3 linked regions of the Homo sapiens genome follow. The protein of the gene in region 3 purifies or fractionates together with the protein of the main gene of each other region. This does not show direct contact. Each region holds a gene or a part of one and is shown on either strand. Other genes may lie near its edges. The genes, in order: RIPK1, KDR and TNFRSF25.

Region 1 (3,652 bases), on a different chromosome or scaffold from region 3:
TAGAAAATCAGTTTAAAACCACAAGTCAAGTCGAACTCAGTTTTCTGAGGATTCAAACCAAGTTCCTAACAATATGTTACTAGGAAAATCACCACACAGGATGCATCCTACACAGTCAGAAAAGATGCTCTTACCAGGAAATGTCGGCCGAGCTTCCGGATTCGCTTCCCAGCAGAGCTTCATGAGACTGATAATTTCTCTTGGGCAGTACTCAGTGATGTCATCCACATCTGGCCTGTTCCCAGATTTTATGCACATTATCAACTGCTGCTCACAGATAGCATCTACAAAGCAAAGACTTTCTTTCAGGTCTTGCTCCTCTCTCAGGCAGGAAGGTGACAGAACTTGAACAATACTGCTCATTTTTCTCAGCCTCTGGTACAGCTGCCTCATTCCATAGAGTGGAATGGCCTTATGACAAGGAGCTGACATATTCCACTACAGAGATGACCAAACAATATCTTAATGTCTGCAGATAAAACAAAATTCTCGACAAAGCTGCCTGCTGATGGAACAAAAAGATTATGTGGGCAAGGCCAATGGCATGCTCCATGTGCAAAAGCAAATACAGGGCAGTCCTTGTCTTTAGGAGCTCAGTTTAATGAGAGTGACTTAAAACACAGAGTGATCATTGCTATTCAAGAAGGCTGAGGCTGGGCATGGTGGATCACACCTGTAATCCCAGCACTTTGGGAGGTTGAGACAGGCGGATCATGACGTCAAGAGATCAAGACCATCCTGGCCAACATGGTGAAACCCCGTCTCTACTAAAAATATAAAAATTAGCTGGGCATGGTGGTGTGCACCTGTAGTCCCAGCTACTCGGGAGGCTGAGGCAGAAGAATTGCTTGAACCTGGGAGGTGGAGGCTGCAGTGAGCCGAGACTGCACCACTGCACTCCAACCTGGCGACAGAATGAGACTCTGTCTCACGGGAAAAAAAAAAAAAAAAGGATGTACAAGGGGTTCCAGTAGCACAAACCTGACTAAAAAGGTCCAGGAAGGCTTTGTTGAGTCCAGAAAAATTAGCAGGTAAAGAATGGGAAAGGGAGACTTAAGGAGGAGGACTCCAGGAAGAGAAGCAGGATATCAACAGACTAGAAGTTACAGAGATCATGACGCATCCCACAAATTCCTCAGTGTAACTGCACACTGACAAAGAAGGGAGGGTTAGGGACGAGGCCAGTAGAGAAGCAAAGGCCAGAACATGAAGGCCTTTTATTCCACGCTGAGGAATTCGAACTTCATCCTGAAGACCACAGAGCATCTGGGAAGGATTTCCAATATGTGAGGGAGAGGGTTGCATGTGCCTTTTAGGACGACCATTTTGGCTGCCACATGAATGGTGGACGGTGGAAGGAGCCTGCTGCAGAAACGAGGAGGGTTTGAACTGAGCAGAGGCCAGTGGAGACAGAGAAAGGCAGATGGGTTGCAGATATATCTTGAGTCATACATATATCTTGAATTCACAGGTTTTGAGATCTGATAGAATGTGGGAGAGAGGGGCAAGGGCGAGTCTGGGATGACTCTGAAGTTTCTTATTGGGCAACAACTTGGTAAAAGGATGGCGATGCCACTTCCCAAGCATATGAAGAGGGGTGAAGCGGGGCGAGCTGCAGGACAGTGTCGACAGGATGTGTTTGGGGGATGCTGCTTTGGAGGTTCCTCTGGTACCTGCGATGGATCTGACTGTAAGACAAGTGGATATCCATTCCAGAGCCAGAGACACAGATTTAAGAAGCATTTGCAAAGAGATGATCATCAAACCATGGGAGCTGATGATCACCCAAGAAGAGTATGTAGGACAACATCCATCAGTTTATGCACTTAACAAACTGCAGAGTGTCTCTATCCTACACAAGCCACGACTTACTCATCTTTATATTCCCAATGCCGACTCAAGTGCCCACAGTAGGGACTGAAAAGAAATAATTCTTGAATGAAGGAGCAAGTGAATGAGTGAAAGTATGAAGTGTATGCCTTGTAGTGTGAAAGGCTAAGTCCTCACAAGCAGAAACAATCAACTTTCCTGTCTAGGAAGAACCCTGGAATTTCACAGCACCTCTCCAGCTAATGACACACTATCGAGGTTCCTATTCATCCTATGATCACTGATTCCTAAATGGGATTACTCATTCATTCAACAAAAATTTACTGGGCACCTATTAGTTCCAGGCACAGTGCGTGTAGATGCTGAGGGGACGGCAGTGGAAAGTAAGTAATGCCTTACTTTCATATGGCTCCTTATTTGCAAATATCGCCCAGAGTACTACAGCAAAGCTGTACACATCCGACTTCTCTGTGGGCTTTGCGTTGACGTCATTCAGGTGCTCGGGCGCCATGTAGTAGAGGGTGCCGCCATTCTTCTTAGCGGTGCCGTCCACTTCCCTCAGCTCATTGTGCTCTTCATTATTCAGTTTGCTCCACATCTTAAAGGAGGCAAGGCCGAGGTCTGCGATCTGCGAAAGACATTGAGCCACTGGGATTGTTTGGTGAAGGCCGTAAGCAAATCAGATCTGACTTTCAATTTTGGGCTTATCCATTATACATAAGGTACGGTAAATTTTCCAGAAATGGTTGCACTGGGCAGGTTCAAAACAGCGACTTCTCAACAGACTCATAGAAACTGTGTGTCTCCTCAGCCATTTGTAAAATGTCGCCCAGGAAACGTTCACATGAAATTCTGGTATCGTATTCCTTATGCAGTAAGGGGGAGGGGAAAAGCGGAAGATGTTTCTGACAAGAACAGTAACAACCAAACATATTTATTCTCATTCCCCATTGACTCTGCGTATGTTTTTCAACTATTTCTAGGGCTTGGGGGGAAAATGGTTATTTTCTTCTCTGCACATTTATGCAGCAGACAGTGGCTAAATACTACACCTTCTATTTCCCCAAATGGCGTCCAGAGGCCCATGGATGCAAGTGTCCAAGGATCCCAAAGACACACTGAGGATAAGGACTGCAGTGTTGCTTGTTTTGAGCTGTAGCCTGAACCTAAGAGGAGATAGGGTGGAAAGGAGGAGAAAAACAGACAAAAAAGCAGAGAGAAAAATAGCAAGGTCAGACACAGAACAAGAACAGTGCTGGCAGGGCAAAATGACAGGGCAGCACAGTTCAGAAGAGAATATAGGTGCCAGTTCCACTTCTGCCTCCAGGAATCCAAGCAAGCATGTGGGGATGAACTGTGGCACATGAGTACCTAAAATTCACAGATTCTAACCCACGACATAAGAGGGAAGTCATGAATTTGAAGATAGGTTATGAATAAGGAATTTTTATTCCCAGCCCTTTGTCCAAGACTAGGACAAAGCGCTAGACGCAGAACCTGCTGGTGATGAGAGGCCCCTGTGTCAGCAGCTCCTGGGTGCCTCCCCCAGGGCTGCTTCCCCTTCCGCTTCCCCTTTTGGATTCTTGTGCTTGGATTCCTGCTGCAGAAGCCAATTAGATATGACACTCCCCCTAGCTAAATCCTGCCCTTGAATGAACAAAAGAAAAATCCCTTTCCCTTGTTCCCTTTACGACAATGGAAAGAATGTGTTCAAAGGAAACTGATTTTTAAAATACAGACAGAAGTAAACAATCGAATACAAATATAAAACAAAATTTCAAAGTAGAGGTTTTTGATGCACTGCTGATTTTTTTTTTTTTTT
Region 2 (3,652 bases), on a different chromosome or scaffold from region 3:
GTAAACATGTGCCATGGTGATTTGCTGCACCTATTAATCCATCTCCTAGGTATTAAGCCCAGCATGCATTAGCTATTTTTCCTGATGCTCTCCTTCTCCCCAACCCACAGTAGGCCCCAGTGTGTGTTGTTCCCTTCCCTGTGTCTATGTGTTCACATTGTTCAGCTCCCACTTATAAGTGAGAATGTGTGGCGTTTGGTTTTCTGTTCCTGTGTTAGTTTGCTGAGGATAATGGCTTCCAGCTCCATCCATGCAGCTGCAAAGGACATGATCAGATTCCTTTTTACGGCTGCATAGCATTCCATGGTGTATATGTACCACATTTTTTTTTATCCCACTGACCTTCTATTATGAAAAATGCCTCCACTTTTGCACAGCCAAGAACACTGCATGCCTGGCAGGTGTAGAGGCCTTCGTCCTCCTTCCTCACTCTGCGGATAGTGAGGTTCCGGTTCCCATCCTTCAATACAATGCCTAACAGAGGAAGAAAACGATCATTCTCATTTATGATGATGTAGTCTGTGAAGTTTTTCAGGGAAATTTAGAAAATATAAATGCTGCCCTTCATCTTGTTCTATTATCTAACTCTGTAGAGTCACATGGGATCTACTGCTGACTAATCTCCTATATGGCTTTCATGAAAATTCAACAGGGCCCCATACTCCAATTCTAAGTCTGTGAAATGAGCCAGGTCATGGACACCAATACTGCTTTTTTTCTACATTACATCAAGAAATAATATGGCTTTTTAGATAACATCCCTGGGAAAGTTCTGCAACCCAAGAGTGATAGCCAAATTCTATTTACCTGAGTCTTCTACAAGGGTCTCATTATCTTTAAACCACATGATCTGTGGAGGGGGATTCCCAGATGCCGTGCATGAGACTTCGATGCTTTCCCCAATACTTGTCGTCTGATTCTCCAGGTTTCCTGTGATCGTGGGTGCCACACGCTCTAGACACACAAAAAGAAAATCACAGAACATGGAATTATAACTTTTGAAATGGTTCTGGTATCAGCAAACTTTTAAACAGTTTAAATTTAGTAAAAAGGAACTTGTTGATATATTAACTTCTGGGAAAATACACTGGTCACTGGGTAAAGTTAAATGAAACAAGTCAGTCAGGACACTGCAAACAGATTAATGGCTTTTAACATTCATATTAGTGATACTAGCTGGTAATCCCATCACAAAAGAAAGGTTCAGGGTCACCTTTATGGATTTTTCCTCTAATTAGACACAGCCTCCCCAGGTGAAAACTTCCCTCCCATGAAGATTCTAGTCAATAATACCCTAGAATCCCTTCAAATTTCTCTTGGAAGTGCCAAATTTTAGTATCATTCAACCAATAATGCCTTACATTTATTTGGCAATTCTTATAAAACTTGTTTACACAATTTGTGTTCCTCACTAGTGATCTTATGTAATGAGCAGAATAGGACTGTTAGCGTTATCTCACAGATGAAATAAATGATGTTCAGCGACATTAAACCACTTGTCCATGTCCCTGCAACTAAGTAAACAGTTGAACTGTTTACAGAATCTGGTGAGGCTAAAAGACCAGTTCAGTGCTATTTCCACTAAAACACAAACAAAACAACAATACCCTAAGGGAAGTCTTGGATTTAAAGAAAATGAAGCCCATGAGTATTTGTTTAAGTGTACAAGAACACTTTAGATTTATTCTTTCTTCAGATCATCAAAGTGCTGTGGAAATATCTTGTCCCAACCAACTGAACATCAAAAGGAATCATGCTGAAAAAATCCACGTCAACACTTAGCAAAATGAGATTACCTCAACAGCGTACTACATTGAAGTCTAAGCAAATGTACTGGATTCTAGCCTATTTCTAAGAATAGGTTTTAGGAAAACAAGTTAGGAGTCCTTAGGGAAGCAAAGCAGCTAACTGCGAGCACATATTTTCTGGGCACAGCTAGGCCAGGAGCCTACTTCACATCTCTTTCTCAATTCTGCCATAACCTTGAAGCCAGACAAGCCAACAGAAAATCCATGTGATCTATGTGGTGTGACTTGAAGGATGCTGGGGATGACTTGACCCCAAAGTATCTCTTATTATGACACCTGAGTCTTAAAACTAGCGAACTTTATGCTAGTGTCTGTCAGAAGGTGCCTCTTCAAATACGCCAAGGCCTCTGATGAAGACGTTACCCTCTAAAACTGTGGTATAGATGAATTTACTTGGGCAATTTCCTTCCTAACAGTAAAAAAAAAACAGAGGGCACATATATCCTAGGAATTGGAAAGGGACACCACAAGAGGAGAAAATGGAGAGAAGTGGCACAAAGAGACGCTCCCCAAATTTGCCTGATTTTCCCACAGACAAAGCCATGGCTGCCCAGCTTTTGCACAAGGCATGAGGTTAGACAAGGGGTAGACAGTGCCTCTATGGAGGAATTTACAGAGCTATCTGCTCACTGAAGTGATCGTCCCATTGACCTTGGGCTACGCTGGATCATGTGGGATGACCCAGAGGTACAGACAGTGAATGTAGCTTCCTTCCCATGGAGTCTTCTAGGTCTTAAACGCAGCCCATCATCCCACTCTTCATGCAGCAGGTGCCTTATTGAGCAGTTAGTATATGCTGCTATGCTCTATGACTAGAGCTATAGCAGGGAGCAAAACAGAGAACAATTCCTGTTCTCATGGACACAGAGACCTCACTGTGCTGTGACTTCCCAGTGGTTGCCTATGTTCTCCTCCTTTCCTTCATGTTTACCACTGTGAATTTCTGACACTCTCCTAGCTCATAGCAGGCATTCCACAAATATTTGTCTATTTAAATAAATGGATGCCCAAGATAAGGCAGAAGTTTCCCTGGTTCAAGCTAATATCCCTTGCATATACTAGTGAATTACTCCATCATCAGGTTTTGTTATTTTCTCCTTTCGATATATCATTTCATTATTATTAGCTTCTTTCTTCCTCAAGGACTTTCGGTGAAGAAGTGTGCACCAGTTTACAACATAATCTCCTAGAGGACAGTAATCTTTGCATAGCACCTGAATTGCACTACATTTAAGGCATTCCAACTGCCTCTGCACAATGATCCAGAATTGTCTCCCTACCTAGGACTGTGAGCTGCCTGACCACGCAATGTCTTTTCTTGGTCTTCCTGTCTTGAGCAAGGCAGACATAGTCTCCTTGGTCCTGCAAGGATGCATTCTTAAGCTCCATGATCAAAATGTCATTTGTGCTATTAGAGAACATGGTGGCATTCAATTTCCAAAGAGTATCCAAGTTCTTGCAAACAGGTGTGGGCAACTCTCCCACATGGATTGGCAGAGGCTGTGGGCCAAGCTTGTACCATGTGAGGTTCTCAAACGTAGATCTGTCTGCAGTGCACCACAAAGACACGCTCTCCTGCTCAGTGGGCTGCATGTCAGGTTGCAAAGTAATTTCAGGACCCCCTAAAATGAAGAGGCCATAGTTATTGAATGGTGATTTAACTTGGTACAGCTCACTATCATCTTGCTGCTTTCAGACTACTACAAAGTACCAAAAGAAATGAAGCTCTATCCGTTCCAGGTGATGTACTACAACTTGACAAACAAACTAGACAATTCAGGTCCCAAAATATCTTATTTGGCCAAACACATTACTTGAAAATGTAAACGAATTCCTCAGATATT
Region 3 (3,040 bases):
TCCCTGACCCCCACCCTGGCCCCCCGTATCCCCAGCCCTTGGCAACACTGGAGTGCACACGCCGCCACGGTTGCCCAGAAAAAGTGCCCAAGCTGCTGACGCAAACAACAACAAATGCTGCTTATTTGCATGCCGACTTACATATATTTGCATGTTCGTTGACTATCAAAGAGTGCAGAGCTCTCCCCAGCCCCGTGGGTGGTGACTTTGTTTTCCTGCGGGGCTCAGCCCCCTCCAGGATGCAGCCCCCTCCCCCGCACCCCGGAACCGGCGTCGCTGGCGCATCCTGGGTGGAGGCAGGCCCCGAGCTCGGGGAAGGGGTTTTCCCTTCCTCTCTGACCCAGATCTGCGCGCGGCCTAGCCCGGGCCTCATTTCTTATCCCCGCCAAGGGTTTCCTCTCAGTCATTTGTTTACCAGAAACATGAAAACTGCCTGTCTGGCCGGGCCGCACTTGTGGCCCCCGGGACCCCACCTCTGGCCCCACCTCCCTCAAGTCTGCGCCCCGTCCCCAGCCAGACCCACTCGCTGCCGGGACCCTTTCACTGCCCCGGTGGAGTGAATAGAGGATGAGGGGCCCTGACCCTGTGTCTCCAACTGCTGCACCCCATCCCGACCCTGTCTCCGCCACCTCGCAGCCCCATTAAAGCGCTCTCATCTGGGCTCCGGTTCACTCACTCGCTGTGGCCGCGACTTGCTCTCTCCTTCTCGGGGTAATTGAGCCAGAGTGGACTCGGGAGGGGCAGGCTTGGGAGCTAAGGCCACACTGGACTCCACCATGGGTGCCAGATCCCGGGGTGACAAGATTCCCGTCCCCTTCGAATCCCTCGAGAAAAGTCCAGTCCACTTAACACCCCAGCCCCGCAGAAACGCCAAGAAGCCGTTTTTGTTTTGTTTTGTTTTCTTTCACAGATTTAATACCGCGATCTCAGCCAAACTCCGGCCGAGAAGTTGAGAAATGTCTTCACCCCCTCTCGACATTCGTTCGTGCTTCTTCGCCTTGGCTGGAGCGATAGGGGCGAGCAGGGGTGGGGCCGGCTGGTGCTGCTACGCAGGGCCGTGCCAGCGGCTTAATAAGTGACATAAAATGTCTACACGCATAAGTAACCGTACTTAGGGCTTCTGCAAGGGCCACCAGAGCGCCTAGGTGGCAAGTGGGCGCCGTGTCACGGGCCGCGCTGCAGGCGGCTGCGCAAGTCTTCCACGCAGCCGTCCAGCCCCATGCGCTCCAGGGCCGCGTAAACGGCTCCGAGGCCCGCGGGCTGCTGCTGGCGCCAGCGCTTGAGCATCTCGTACTGCTGGTCTCGGAAGCGGCCGATCTCCACCTCCACGGCTTCGATCTCTGCCTCGCGCAGCCCCAGCGTGCGCACGAACTCCTTCCAGCGCCGCGCTGGGACCGCGTCCATCACGTCGTAGAGCTGCGGGCCCGGCTGCAGCATCATGGCTGGCGAGCCGGCTGGGGACTCTGGCGAGAGTGTGGGCGCAGCAGCGGGGCCTGGGGCAGGGCCAGAGAGAGCCAATTGGGGTACGTGGGCCGCGGTCGGGAGGCAGAGTCAGGGGCGTTCGTGCGGGTACCCCAGGGCTGAAGCCCGCTGGATCCGGTGGGTCAGGGCATAGGGCGGACTCCGTCAGTTAGGGGGCAGAAAGGGAACACGTTGTGAAACCACAACTTCCCACCGCAGACAGGAGAATGGGGTCAAGGCCTCAGGCCACTGATGTCCCTTACCAAGAGCTCTGCTGGGCAACTGGTCCCAGGACCATGTCACCTGCGGGCAGAGCGCCTCCTGGGTCTCGGGGTAGCCAGGGGTCCAGCTGTTACCCACCAACTGGACGGTGCAGATCTTCTCACTGCTGTCAGGAGGTGCTAGAAGGGTGTGGGCGCTGTCCAAGGGTGACAGATGGGTGGCCTGGAAGCCAAGAGGGGCCCCAGGTCAGCCCTGCTTGCCAAGTAAGGCCCCTTACCCGCAGTGCCTCTCCAGGAGGGGACAGTCCCTGGTTCAGTCAGCAGACACCCCCGCAATGACACCTCCCACAGTTGGCCCTGCTCTCACTGTAGCCCAGCAGAACTCTTGCTTCTGCCTTGAGTCCCCTGCCCCCGCCTCCTTCCTCTTGTCCCCCAGCACCATGGGGCTCTCCTTCCATTGAACTGTTAGCTCCTGTGTACGAATCTGAACTCCAGCTGACTGAGCACCCCTTGAGGGCAGGCACTGTGCTGGTCTCATCCACTGATGACTCTGCTCCCAACACCTCTGTCCACTAGGGCTACCCGGTGCTGGCCGCGTGCCAAGCTCCAGGGATCATAGTAAGGCTTGATCTTCCAGCTCCAGAAGGCAGCCCAGAATCACACAGTGAGGTTCTTACCGGTGGTGGGGTCAGAGCCTCCATCCCAGCTTCATCTGCTGACAGACACAGAGAGATTGCGGTCAGCCACCAGGCAAGCCTCCTGGACCTGGGTGCTGGTACAGCTCCTCTAGGGTTCCTCTGCACCCCACACTCCCTGCCTCAGTTTCCCCTTCTGTATCAGGGTTGAGTAGACTCTGGGCTACCCATCCTGACCCCAGGCTTCTGGGTGCGTGTGTGGGTGTGTGTACTTACCAGTAACCAGGGGCTTGTGAGGCCAGCAGTGGCGGTATGTGTAGGTCAGGGTGGCCCCAAGCAGGAGGGGGACCACAAGGCCAGCCAGGAGCACCTGGACCCAGAACACTGAAAGCAGCTGGTGGGTGTTGGGTGGTTGCCCCCCTCCTCACCCGCCTCCCCTCGGTCCATCCCAGTTCTCCCACTCGCATTCCCAGCACACCACCTACTCTGCCTCCAGCCACAGACAGCGGCACAGCGCTCTGGACAGCTCCCCAGGGTGCTCCTGCAAGGGACGGGGGTGGCCTGAGGGATGAGGGGGTGCATGCCAGGAGGGGCTCCCTAAGACTGCCCAGCATCTGCTCCATCCTAGAGACCCTTCCCTCCCCAGGCCTCTCACTCTACCCAAGAATGTTCCTGTCATTGTGTCCCTGGTAACAACCACAGACACTATTCACTGAGCTTCTT

Evidence for each region.
Region 1: the proteins of TNFRSF25 (region 3) and RIPK1 purify together in Homo sapiens (affinity purification with western blotting, with the first as the bait; one study listed by BioGRID). This does not show direct contact.
Region 2: the proteins of TNFRSF25 (region 3) and KDR purify together in Homo sapiens (affinity purification with western blotting; one study listed by BioGRID). This does not show direct contact.

The regions. Positions count from the first base shown.
Region 1 is NC_000006.12:3,081,891-3,085,542, reverse strand, and holds part of RIPK1 (receptor-interacting serine/threonine-protein kinase 1), read right to left. Parts: intron 3,609-3,652; exon of another isoform or gene 2,883-3,608; intron 2,459-2,882; coding exon 2,230-2,458; intron 285-2,229; coding exon 135-284; intron 1-134. UniProt on the Homo sapiens protein: Serine-threonine kinase which is a key regulator of TNF-mediated apoptosis, necroptosis and inflammatory pathways.
Region 2 is NC_000004.12:55,101,555-55,105,206, forward strand, and holds part of KDR (vascular endothelial growth factor receptor 2 precursor), read right to left. Parts: intron 3,431-3,652; coding exon 3,089-3,430; intron 955-3,088; coding exon 808-954; intron 475-807; coding exon 343-474; intron 1-342. UniProt on the Homo sapiens protein: Tyrosine-protein kinase that acts as a cell-surface receptor for VEGFA, VEGFC and VEGFD. Plays an essential role in the regulation of angiogenesis, vascular development, vascular permeability, and embryonic hematopoiesis.
Region 3 is NC_000001.11:6,460,270-6,463,309, forward strand, and holds the end of TNFRSF25 (tumor necrosis factor receptor superfamily member 25 isoform 2 precursor), read right to left. Parts: intron 2,879-3,040; coding exon of another isoform or gene 2,859-2,878; coding exon 2,803-2,858; coding exon of another isoform or gene 2,796-2,802; intron 2,702-2,795; coding exon 2,594-2,701; intron 2,398-2,593; coding exon 2,360-2,397; intron 1,906-2,359; coding exon 1,725-1,905; intron 1,494-1,724; coding exon 1,165-1,493; 3' UTR 917-1,164; coding exon of another isoform or gene 911-916; 3' UTR 517-910; downstream 1-516. UniProt on the Homo sapiens protein: Receptor for TNFSF12/APO3L/TWEAK. Interacts directly with the adapter TRADD. Mediates activation of NF-kappa-B and induces apoptosis. May play a role in regulating lymphocyte homeostasis.